2 separate regions of the Homo sapiens genome follow, and region 2 is reported to be linked to region 1. The links are microRNA targets in miRTarBase. Many come from high-throughput screens and were not tested one by one. Region 1 holds a microRNA gene; the other region holds the end of a gene's coding sequence.
What was found. The annotated mature microRNA hsa-miR-7515 reads AGAAGGGAAGAUGGUGAC and lies in region 1 at 2,388-2,405, opposite strand. An mRNA with a match to its seed (bases 2 to 7 or 8) in the 3' UTR can be bound and repressed. Matches are read on the target gene's strand: a 7mer-m8 pairs with bases 2 to 8, a 7mer-A1 pairs with bases 2 to 7 and ends in A, and an 8mer does both.

Region 1 (5,177 bases):
GTTCATTCTTCAAATACAGCTCAGTTCCCAGGGCTTTCTTCTGCACAAATGAGTCAAAAGCGCTGCTGCATCCAACAGTGAGAAAGCAGATGTGTCCCCCTCATTCAGAACACCCAAACTCTCTTACTGTGGCTTAAGGGGCTATAACCTTCTGACTCACCCTTCATACCATAAGCTCATGCAGACTGCAAAGCTAACTAATGCTAACCATCCTTCCTGGTTGTTTTTAAAGCAATTTCTATTAAACCTATTTAGTCCACCTTTAGGCAGTTGCCTTCTGAATTCAGGTTCATACCATTACATTTCCTCCTGCTGCAATGTTATTTTCAGCCTGTCTTTCAAGCCTGTCCAGATTTTTGTGAACGCTGTTACTGAGTTTGCATGCACAAGGTTCCTCTCACAGATGAATCATGCCCAAATTTGACAAGTGTACTTTCTACATCTTCCACTACAATTTCTAAGAAACGAATAGGCTTCTACTGACATTAGTGAGTGGCATAAGCCTGAATGAAATAGACTATGACTCTTGACTGGCTGAATATACAATAAAAGCATAAAACACAAAATGCTTTTCCAACATAGATGCTAGAAATGAGAGTAAAGCTAAAATTCCCCAGCCATACACCCCATGTGGGCTCCAGCACTCTACGTTTAGCTGCCCAGATATCAGCACACATGGCTGTGATGGAGCCAGGAGGTGGGTGCTTCAGTCTTGACTTCCCCACTTTCTATCTTGTGTCCCACCATCTAACTTGTTTTGGGCAAGTCAGTTTTTTTGAGCCTACCTTTCCTCCTCTATGGTGTGTGGGTAGTAACACCAGTCAGACTTAACCTGAAAGTTGTGTGAATGAAAAGCATAATCTGTATGTCAACCCTGAAGATATACGTATGTCAGAAATTACTATAAAGAGATCATCAGCTGGGCACGGTGGCTCACACCTGTAATCCTAGCACTTTGGGAGGCCGAGGCGGGCAGATCACCTGAGGTCAGGAGTTCGAGACCAGCCTGGCCAACAAGATGAAACCCTGTCTCTACTAAAAATACAAAAATTAGCTGGGCGTGGTGGCGGACACCTGTAATCCCAGCTACTCGGGAGGCTGAGGTAGGAGAATTGCTTGAACCCAGGAGGCGGAGGTTGTGGTGAGCCGAGATGGCAGCATTGCACTCCAGCCTGGGGAACAAGAGCAAGACTTCATCTGGAAAAAAAAAAAAAAAGAAAAAAAAAGAGATCATCATTAATTTCCTTTCATCTCATGATGTAGAAACATTTAGATGTTGGGATCCTTCCACATACTTATCTAAGAAAATCTCTGGCTTTTTTTTTTTTTTTTTTTTTTTTTGAGATGGAGTCTCGCTCTTGATGCCCAGGCTGGCGTGCAGTGGCACCATCTGGGCTCATTGCAACCTCTGCCTCCCGGGTTTGAGAAATTCTCCTGCCTCAGTCTCCTGAGTATCTGGGATTACAGGCACCCGCCACCACGCCTGGCTAATTTTTTAAATATTTTTAGTAGAGACAGGGTTTCACCATGTTGACCAAGCTAGCCTCAAACTCCTGACCTCAGGTGATCTACCCACCTTGGCTTCACAAAGTGCTGGGATTACAGGCATGGGCCACTTTTCTATTTGTTTATTTTTGTGTTGGTTTTTCTATTTTTGGTGTTTCTGGATCATGGACTTTGAAAAACTTCCTGGCTTAGCAAATTAGTGTCCTTGTTTCAGTAGCTTCTGCTTGAAGATTTCTGCTGTAGGCAATGAGCCAACTGGCCAGAAAATATCCAGTTATGCTCTGCAGGTTCATGGTGGATGGGGACTTTCACTGTTGTTTAGAGAAACCATTGAGTGGATAACGTTCCAAACAGCAAAATCAAATGGGGATTCTGTACACTCGGGAGTGTCGGCTCTGGACAAATTAGGTTGCACTTGATTGTAAGAAGCCAGGCTTTATTAAAATAGAATATAAATATTAACAGAAACGGACTGCTTCTAATCCCCACTACCGTTGGCCAGGGAGGCCTCTCTTCAGGTTTTCTGAATGGAACTAAATAAGGAGCCCATGTTACCGCGGAAAGGGCACTGTGATTAGGAGCCTTTCATGAGCTTCCATGAACGTCTAGGGCTTGGAAACTTCATTTTCAAAATAAGGCTGTTGGATTAGATGATTTTCCCAACCCCTAACCCTCTGTGTTAATGAATGGACTGACTCTATAATCATGTTCCTTGGACATTTCTATGGAAACACTGAGCCATCATAAGGGAGGCCTTCATTCTGATGTAACAAAGCCAGCTGTGTCCACATGAGAACATTGGCAAGAGTGGGGACATGGAAGCTGTGTTCAGGCCGGTCCACGCTGGGTGACCCATGTGACCTGCTGCTTAGCAATTCCTTGTCACCATCTTCCCTTCTCAGCCTCTTTTTTCATGCTAACAGGCATAAATGAAATGATAAAAGTTTGAGCTCTTCTCGTGGAATTCTCGTGATACAGATATGTGCTACATGTTCATCATCTCGTTGGTCTTCACCATGATAACTGTGGAGTAAGAATTATAAGCAGGTCACAGATTAGGGACTTGAGATTGACAGTTTGGCTTCCCTGTTCTGGGTGGCAAAGCCTGTGGAGTACTCACCTACCTGCTGCATGAAGGCAGCATGGAGGGACTGTGGTGGATTATCTGCAAAGATGGCCAAAATTCTCTCATCCCTGCAGGCACATACAAGGTAAGAACACCTTTACCAGTGGAATGTGATGAAAATGCTGCCCAGACAATTCTAGACAGGGCCTTAAGAGGTCTAGATGCTTCCACATTTGCTTTCTTGGGAGCTCTGAGTTATCATGTGAGAACCACCAGTCTCCCCAACCTGCACCCTAAGCTCATTATCCACAAGGCTGTGCAAAATAATAAATCACTGTTGTTAGGACGCAAAGTTTGGTAGTGGTTTGTTATGTAGTCGTGGATAACTGCAGCAGGGATCTCAGCAACTTTTCTTCTCTGAACTAATGTTTAAAGTCAGGATGTAACATATTGTCTCCATGTGACTTTGTTGAACTAAATAAAGAATGCTAATACCAGATGCGGACCCTGCCTCTTCTGTTCTCTAAGACTAGGCATTGCTCTCTGATCAGAAGAGTCAATCCTGGTGAGTTTAACTTGAGCCTCAGAATCCTACTCAACACAAAGTTCCAGAGAGAAGCGATTATCAATGCCAATACCTTAGAGATGGTACTGGCTGTGGAATCTGTCATCCCTTGACTAGGTGGTCTCTAAGTTCCTTTCCAATTTTAATGTTTTCTGTTCTGATTTATCTTTTGGCATTGTGCAGGTGTCAGGAGAAAAAAATAATGCCAATGTGTCTCTTTAATTCCTTTATCATTAAGTCATAACCTTTCCCAACTCCCAATCCAGTTTTCTTACGTCAATACTTTGGTTTTTGCTTTGTGAAGATGCCAGAATCAGTCAAAACTAAGCTCACTGTCCTTGCTAATATTCTGCCCCAGAGAAGAACTGAAGCTCAGCTCTTCACCCTACAGAAAGCCTGAATTTTGTAAATGTTCTGCTTAGAATGAGGAAGAAAGATGAAGAATGAGGAGGAAGAAGGAAGGAACGAGAGAGAGGTAAAGCCAACAAGCAGAACAGACCTACATTTGCAGCATCTCCAAGTTTCTGCAACAGCATTATGTTGTTGTTATGTTTTGTTTTAATAAAAGCACATACCATTTTTTTTGTTACTCTTATATTCTTTTCATAACAGCTCAGCTAAAGACAGATAATGCTGGAGTCAGCTTTTTCTAAGAATTAGTCTCTTCAAACTGGCCATAGAGATTTGGTAGAAGTCATGGGTTTTAATTGAATTTCTCCTAATGGTCTCCCAGGGATGGAAATATGACTGATACAGGCTTACTTTCCCTCTCCCCTCGGTGAAGCTGTATTGCCTCCCACAGAACAGACCGTTCTTTATGTTCTAACCGGGCTTTTCATAACTCCACTGGAGAGCTGTACAAACCCTAGACTTGGCAACGGCTTTTTTGTTTTCTGAAGCCAGACCAATTCTGGACCCAGTTCCTGCTTTCTAGGAAGAAATAGCACATGCAACCAGCCTCTTCACTGATGAAAAAATACCTCACTCCTTTTTAGACAGCTTCTCGTATTGATAATTTTATAGAAATGTACTGTATAAGTGAAAGTCAGCATTTCCATTACACAACAGCCTGCTAGAGCTGCTTCCAAGGGGCAGAGACTCCTGTCGGCTGTTTGTCCGAGGTGATCTTCCTCCCTTAATCTGTCAGTCTAGACCTTAACAATGTTCCTCAAATACCGGCTCAAGTCCTTCCTTCTCCCAATAACTTTTCTATGGTCTCTGGACCTCCTTAGTCTTCAGTGCCGCTCCTCCTAAGTTTCTGCACCACCTGCCTTCAACACCTAGTCTGTGCTGTAAGCATGAGTTTTCTTGTGGCTTCTTTTTCTCAAGGCAGGCTGGGCGTGGGGAGCTGTCTCTGCAGCATCTTTTGAATATAGATGCCATTTCTCACTTTTCTTTTCTCTGTACCCTCTATAGTCCATTGAAAATACTGGGCAATTGATAAATTCATGCTAAAAAGGACGATGATCAAGGTAGGGCCAAGCTGCATGGATGAGGGAAGAGTTGCCACCCACACTGGGCACCACAGGTTCCCTGCACAAGTCACTTTCCCGTTGTGGATCTAGGTTTCCATCTTGGTTTTTTTTTTTTTCCCTTTTATTTATTTATTTATTTATTGGTCAGATGACTTGATCTTTATGGGCTGCAAGAGTCTGTCCTCCCATAGGGTTCAACCTTGGAAACGGGATGGTGTCATTAGAGTCCATCTGCTCACAGCCCTCCATGGGCAGCGCTCTTTTTGGGGGGCTCTGCTCTCACGTGCTGCCTGTGCTGTGGACACAGGTACACTGCCCGCTTGCACAGATAGTGTCTTTCTGCAGCCTCCCTGTTTACATGCTTCCCCAAGACTGGATTCTGGGGCCAGGATGAGCCATGCCCCCCATCTGGCTCTGACCTCCCCTGCGCCAGCTCTGGGTACTAGAAAGTCGCGGTTCTGCTGCTAGACGTTTTCTTCCTTTCTTTAGGTTGTTGCATGGCATAAGTAAAGTGACAGTTATAGGATACATGCAACTTTTCAGTGACAAAGATCTGTGCAGCATC
Region 2 (5,000 bases), not on the chromosome of region 1:
GGTGGAGGTTGCAGTGAGCCAAGATCGTGCCACTGCACTCCAGCCTGGGTGACAGAGCAAAACTCCGTCTCAAAACAGTGGCTAATGATGCAATGAAAAGAGGTTGGTACAAAGGAGAGCCCAGGGTGAGGGAGAGAGCATTGAGTTTAGGCCAAGGGGTCCAGAGGCTACTTCTGGGAACTTGGGGCCTGATATTCCCGGGGATAGCCTAAGAACAGTGTGTTTCCTGATATTCCCGGGGATAGCCTAAGAACAGTGTGTTTCCTGATATTCCCGGGGATAGCCTAAGAACAGTGTGTTTCCTGATATTCCCGGGGATAGCCTAAGAACAGTGTGTTTCATGAACGACAAGGGTGTCAGTGTGTTAGGAAATGCTGCCAGCTGTGTTCGGACTTCTGTGTCTCACCCAGGACCTGAGCGAGGCCATGAGTATGGGGGAGCTGCAGCGGGAGCTGGGTCTACAGGCTATCGATAACCAGCGGGAGGTTTTCCTCTTGGCAGCCAGCATTGCCCCTGCAGGACCCACCTTTGAAGAGCCTGGCACCGTGCACATCTGGAAACTGCTCTTGGAGCTCCTCTCCTAGGCTGGAGCTCTCCTGCTTGCCACCTGCCTGTCAAGACCATAGTTGTACTGCTGCTGCTTCATTGCCAGACTGGGCCTGGGGCAAGAGCCACATGGCAGCATTTCCCTTTTCCCCTCCTTTGCCTTTCAAGAGCAGGGCCTGGGCAAGGCCAAGAACCATGCAGAAGCCTTCCTGGTGAGGTGGCCGTGAAGCCGAAGCAGGGAGGTGGGTGAGACAGAGGGTGGGGAGGATAGTGTCTGGCTCATTCCAGGCTGGAATGTGGATCCAGCTTTCCCTTCTCTTACCTGTACAGTGAGATGCTCAGTGGGCTCAATCCTCCACTACAGGTCCCGGTACCTGAGGAACCAGTGTAGGTGTCAGAAATACTCCTAGAGCCTCAAGGTCTCCCAGTCCAGAAACAGTCTGGTGACGTCATGCCCTTCTCATGTGGGCAGCTTCTGAGTGGTGACACAGCAAGCCTTTGTTCCTGTCCTGCATTGTCCAGCCCCAGCTCCACCTAAGTGACTTGTGGCCTTGTGCAATCTCTGCCTCTCTGACCCCAGGGCCATTATTTTTAAAGGGAGGTGGTTTCCTAATTCGGAGATGCCTTTCCCAGCCATGGGAGTGTGAAGTGCTAGGATGAACCTGGCCATCCTAGCAAGGAGCTTTCTGAAGACCTCCCTGCCTTTCCCTGAGCCCAGGCCTGGCCTGCCAGCCTCTCTTGACTACAGAATAACTGATATTCACCCACCAAACAGAAAAAGTGAAGGCTGGGTTTTTCCCCTCTAATCTGGAGACAAGCTGCTGCTCTCGTACTAACTGTGCCAGTGCCCATGTTTACAGAAGTCAGGGGAAGGAAGGAGCCTGTGTCCCTGGGACGACAGTCAACTGGAGCTAGGTGTTGACCTCAGAACTGCATTTTATTTATTAATTTATAAGCAGAACAGGCCAGAGTTCTAGGCTCTGTTTCTAGGTGCTGTTTTCAAAACCCCAGATGACAGTCATAGAAAATTTGGAACTTAGGAAAATAGCTGGAATCATGAATGACAATGAGATAACATACAGATGTCAGTGGAGACAAAGTTGTGGGTTCCTCCTCCCACCTGGCTTTGAGGCTGTCGTCGATATCATAGTACTTTACATGGATTCACATGAACTGAAACGCCACCACTTGGCCCAGGATGTTGAAAGGGTGCAAATTCCTTCTGGGTAGATAAGAAATGACTCTGGGAGAGGATTTCCCTTATGTGAATCTAGGTAAAAAGATGGAAAAAAATTGTATTATGTGATCCTAAGGACAGGAATAGCAGACCAGCCAACGGGATGGCCTTGGGTACATCACTCAGCCTTTCTGGACCCAATTTTTCCCCAGTGAAAGCCAAGTTGGACTGAATTTCTGGAGTTCTCATCAGTGCACATTCCATAGTTCTCCAGTGCTTGGCGATCAGCCCAATTGAAGGACTGGCTCTGTACTGACACTTATTATCGGTACAGGCAAAGAGGAGCCTGTTGTCTGTTAGGGACCACTAAATCAACAACCACAAATGGATTTTTTTTTTAAGAGGAGCTGTGCACCTCAATTTGCTGTCTAGTTGAGAATAGAGATTGTGTGCCTTCATTTCATTTGACATTTACCCAGCATGCCTCAGTTCCACACCGTGACCAGTGTAAGAAGAGGAACTATGATAAAAACAGTTCAACAAGCCGCAAGGAGGGTGGGAAATTCTGAAGTCCAGAAGCGAGTGTGATCTTTGGAATAGTGGCTGCTGTGCCCTTGGGCGCCATTTGAAGAATCACTGTTCTTGAAAGTGCTGGTTCACTTTCTGCAGTAAGAAGTGATTTATGGGCTTTTATGTAAAATTTTAAGAATGACTTGGGTTTCAGAGTAGCCTTTGAAACTTTGCTGGCAGCTTTTCATTTTGTCATTGGAAGGCTAAGAGACTTTTCTCCTTTGTTCTATGAACTCCTTGTTCTTCAGGGCTTGAAGGCAAAAAAACCTTAGACAACTTTAACGAAGTTTAAAAAGTATGTTCTGTTTTTGAGCAGAAAAAAGATTCGTGAACTGGTTAGTACTTAGCACCAAAAGCAGTTCAGAATGCTCAGCCCCACAATGTGTGTAGGCTACATTTATAGCCAGAGAAACGAAAATAACTTAGGTTGCCTGATTGGCTGCAGTCTGGCATTTGCCTTACCTGAACATGTTTTAGCAGCCTTCAGCCGACGATTGACTGAAGGTTTGGCTGCTGTGATTGGCTAAAATTCGGCTACTTGTTAGAAGAACATACTTTTAGGTTAGGTTACGAGTTGTTTACACGTTAAGTTACAATTCACTGTGTACAGAGGCAGCTTTAGGCCAGACTTAATTCAGCTTCACAGTGTCCCTCATTTTGCTCAGCCCCTTAATTTTGAGAGATTGACCAAAATCCCACGCACTGACACTACCTTCTGTCACTATTTGACCTCATTATGGAACTCACAGTTTACAATGTTAAATCAGTTAGCGGATTCTGTATGTCTTCATGTTTCTGTTACTCTAACCGTAATGAGACCATTTGAGGTACAAAGGATGACTGCATTGGTGTACTTAAGACTACAACACATCAGTGGGGACCTTAGGATGGCTATCAGGAGTGTAATACCAAGAAACTGGAATGCATCCCTTAATATGAGTCTCCACAAACCAAACTGATTGGAATCAAACAACTCAAGTTCAGACGATAAAAATAGTTCAACAGCGTGCAAGCTCTGCTGCTCATAGCCTGTTCAGGGTATAATGGCAATTAAGGACATAGTTCACTATGAAGTACCTTAATTGTAAAGTGTTTGATTTTTTAGTTAGCTTTTGGTAACACAAGTCATGGTGATTGGGATACCCACTAAAAGAAACATGAAGATTAGAAAACCTTGAACAGCTAAGCTTGCTGTCTACCATTCAGGATGCCTGCAAACCAACCACTAGCTGCTCCTGCAAACACATTATGTGTTCCTTTTCCCTGAGAAATATCCTTGATGTGTTTGGTGGCAGTATCTACAGAAGCGGCAGCCACCACCGCCTTTTGAAGCTCTCCATAGTAGTAGAATCAGGAAAGATAAGCACAGCGTTCAGTTTTGTTCAGCACCATACACAAGCTCCTAGCTGGGCAAAGGAAATCTAAAGCTGCATGAAGTTCCATTACGTGTTTTTGTTGAACACAGGTGGCCTCATCCATCCATCCATCCATCCATCCATCCATCCCTCCATCCGTCCACCCGTCCACCCGTCCACCCATCCACCCACCCACCCATCCATCCACCCACCCACCCACCCATCCACCCATCCATCCATCCATCCACTCATCCACCCATCCACCCATCCATCCATCCATCCATCCATCCTTCCATCCATCCACCCATCCACCCATCCATCCATCCACCCATCCATCCATCCATCCATCCATCCATCCATCCATCCATCCATCCATCATCCACCCATCCATCCATCCATCCATCCATCTGTGGCTTCTACCTGTGCGAATCTCTGTGCTACAAAATTCTTTTCAATTTAGCATTAACTTTAATTTCCATACAGTTGGCACCTCACTGCCGCCAAAAGTGAGTCCGCAGGAACTCCACTGGAATATTTGCTCAGGGGAAACTAACTAATCATCTGTTTCAAGGTTGGTATTCATTTTAGTCTTTGACCTCTGATTATGGGGACTTTCAGGGAAAGCTGTTTGCAAGGTGAGCATGAATCAGGTGAAACAGCAAGATCTGAAGTCAGGACAGAGTAAGCAAATTATCCACAGACCTAATATGTACCCTCTGAAGCTGGAAAGTGGGGGCCACCTGGTAGCATTTGAGCAGGGGTCACTTATGTTCCCCCATAAGTCTGCACAGCTCCTAAACAAGGTCCAGTGGGCAACTTATTTTTATGTGGTCCCTTTATAGCATGCTGTAAGGGTGCATAACCACAGCCAGTGAGAAGGAACCCTACTGGATTTAACCCAGTGACATTATATAAGCAATCGCTTGGAGCCACATAGGTAGTTCCCAGGTCCTGAATATGTGGTGCCTGAAAGCATAGGTGTAGGCAGTGTTCCTTGCATAGGCATTACCTGGACAGGTTTTTTTCCATATTGGCACTTATTAATTGAAAAGGTCAGGGTACCACTTCCAATGAGTGTAGGGAAGCAAGCAGTAGTGGTGTTTAGAATATCAAGGTTAGCTGCTGGATGCGGTGGCTCACGCCTGTAATCCCAGCACTCTGGGAGGCTGAGGTGGACGGATCACGAGGTCAGGAGATCGAGACAATCCTGGCTAACACAGTGAAACCCTGTCTCTACTATAAAATACAAAAAATCAGCTGGGTGTGACGGCATGCGCCTGTAGTCCCACCTACTAGGGAGGCTGAGGCATGAGAATCACTTAAACTTGGGAGGCAGAGGTTGCAGTGAGCTG

Region 2: miRTarBase lists ARL10 as a target of hsa-miR-7515. Seed matches in the 3' UTR shown: 7mer-m8 at 856-862.

What each region holds. Positions count from the first base shown.
Region 1 is chr2:6,647,646-6,652,822 of GRCh38, reverse strand. It overlaps MIR7515 (microRNA 7515), which reads right to left and starts at 2,450; the gene lies at 2,384-2,450. LINC03156 (long intergenic non-protein coding RNA 3156) reads left to right here and starts at 2,304. Exons shown (of 2, transcript NR_110497.1): 1 at 2,304-2,717; 2 at 3,442-3,716.
Region 2 is chr5:176,371,312-176,376,311 of GRCh38, forward strand. It overlaps ARL10 (ARF like GTPase 10), which reads left to right. Exons shown (of 4, transcript NM_173664.6): 4 at 411-5,000. The coding sequence ends at 584. Among named protein-coding and RNA genes, the nearest start is that of MIR1271, 5.9 kb to the left of the region's middle.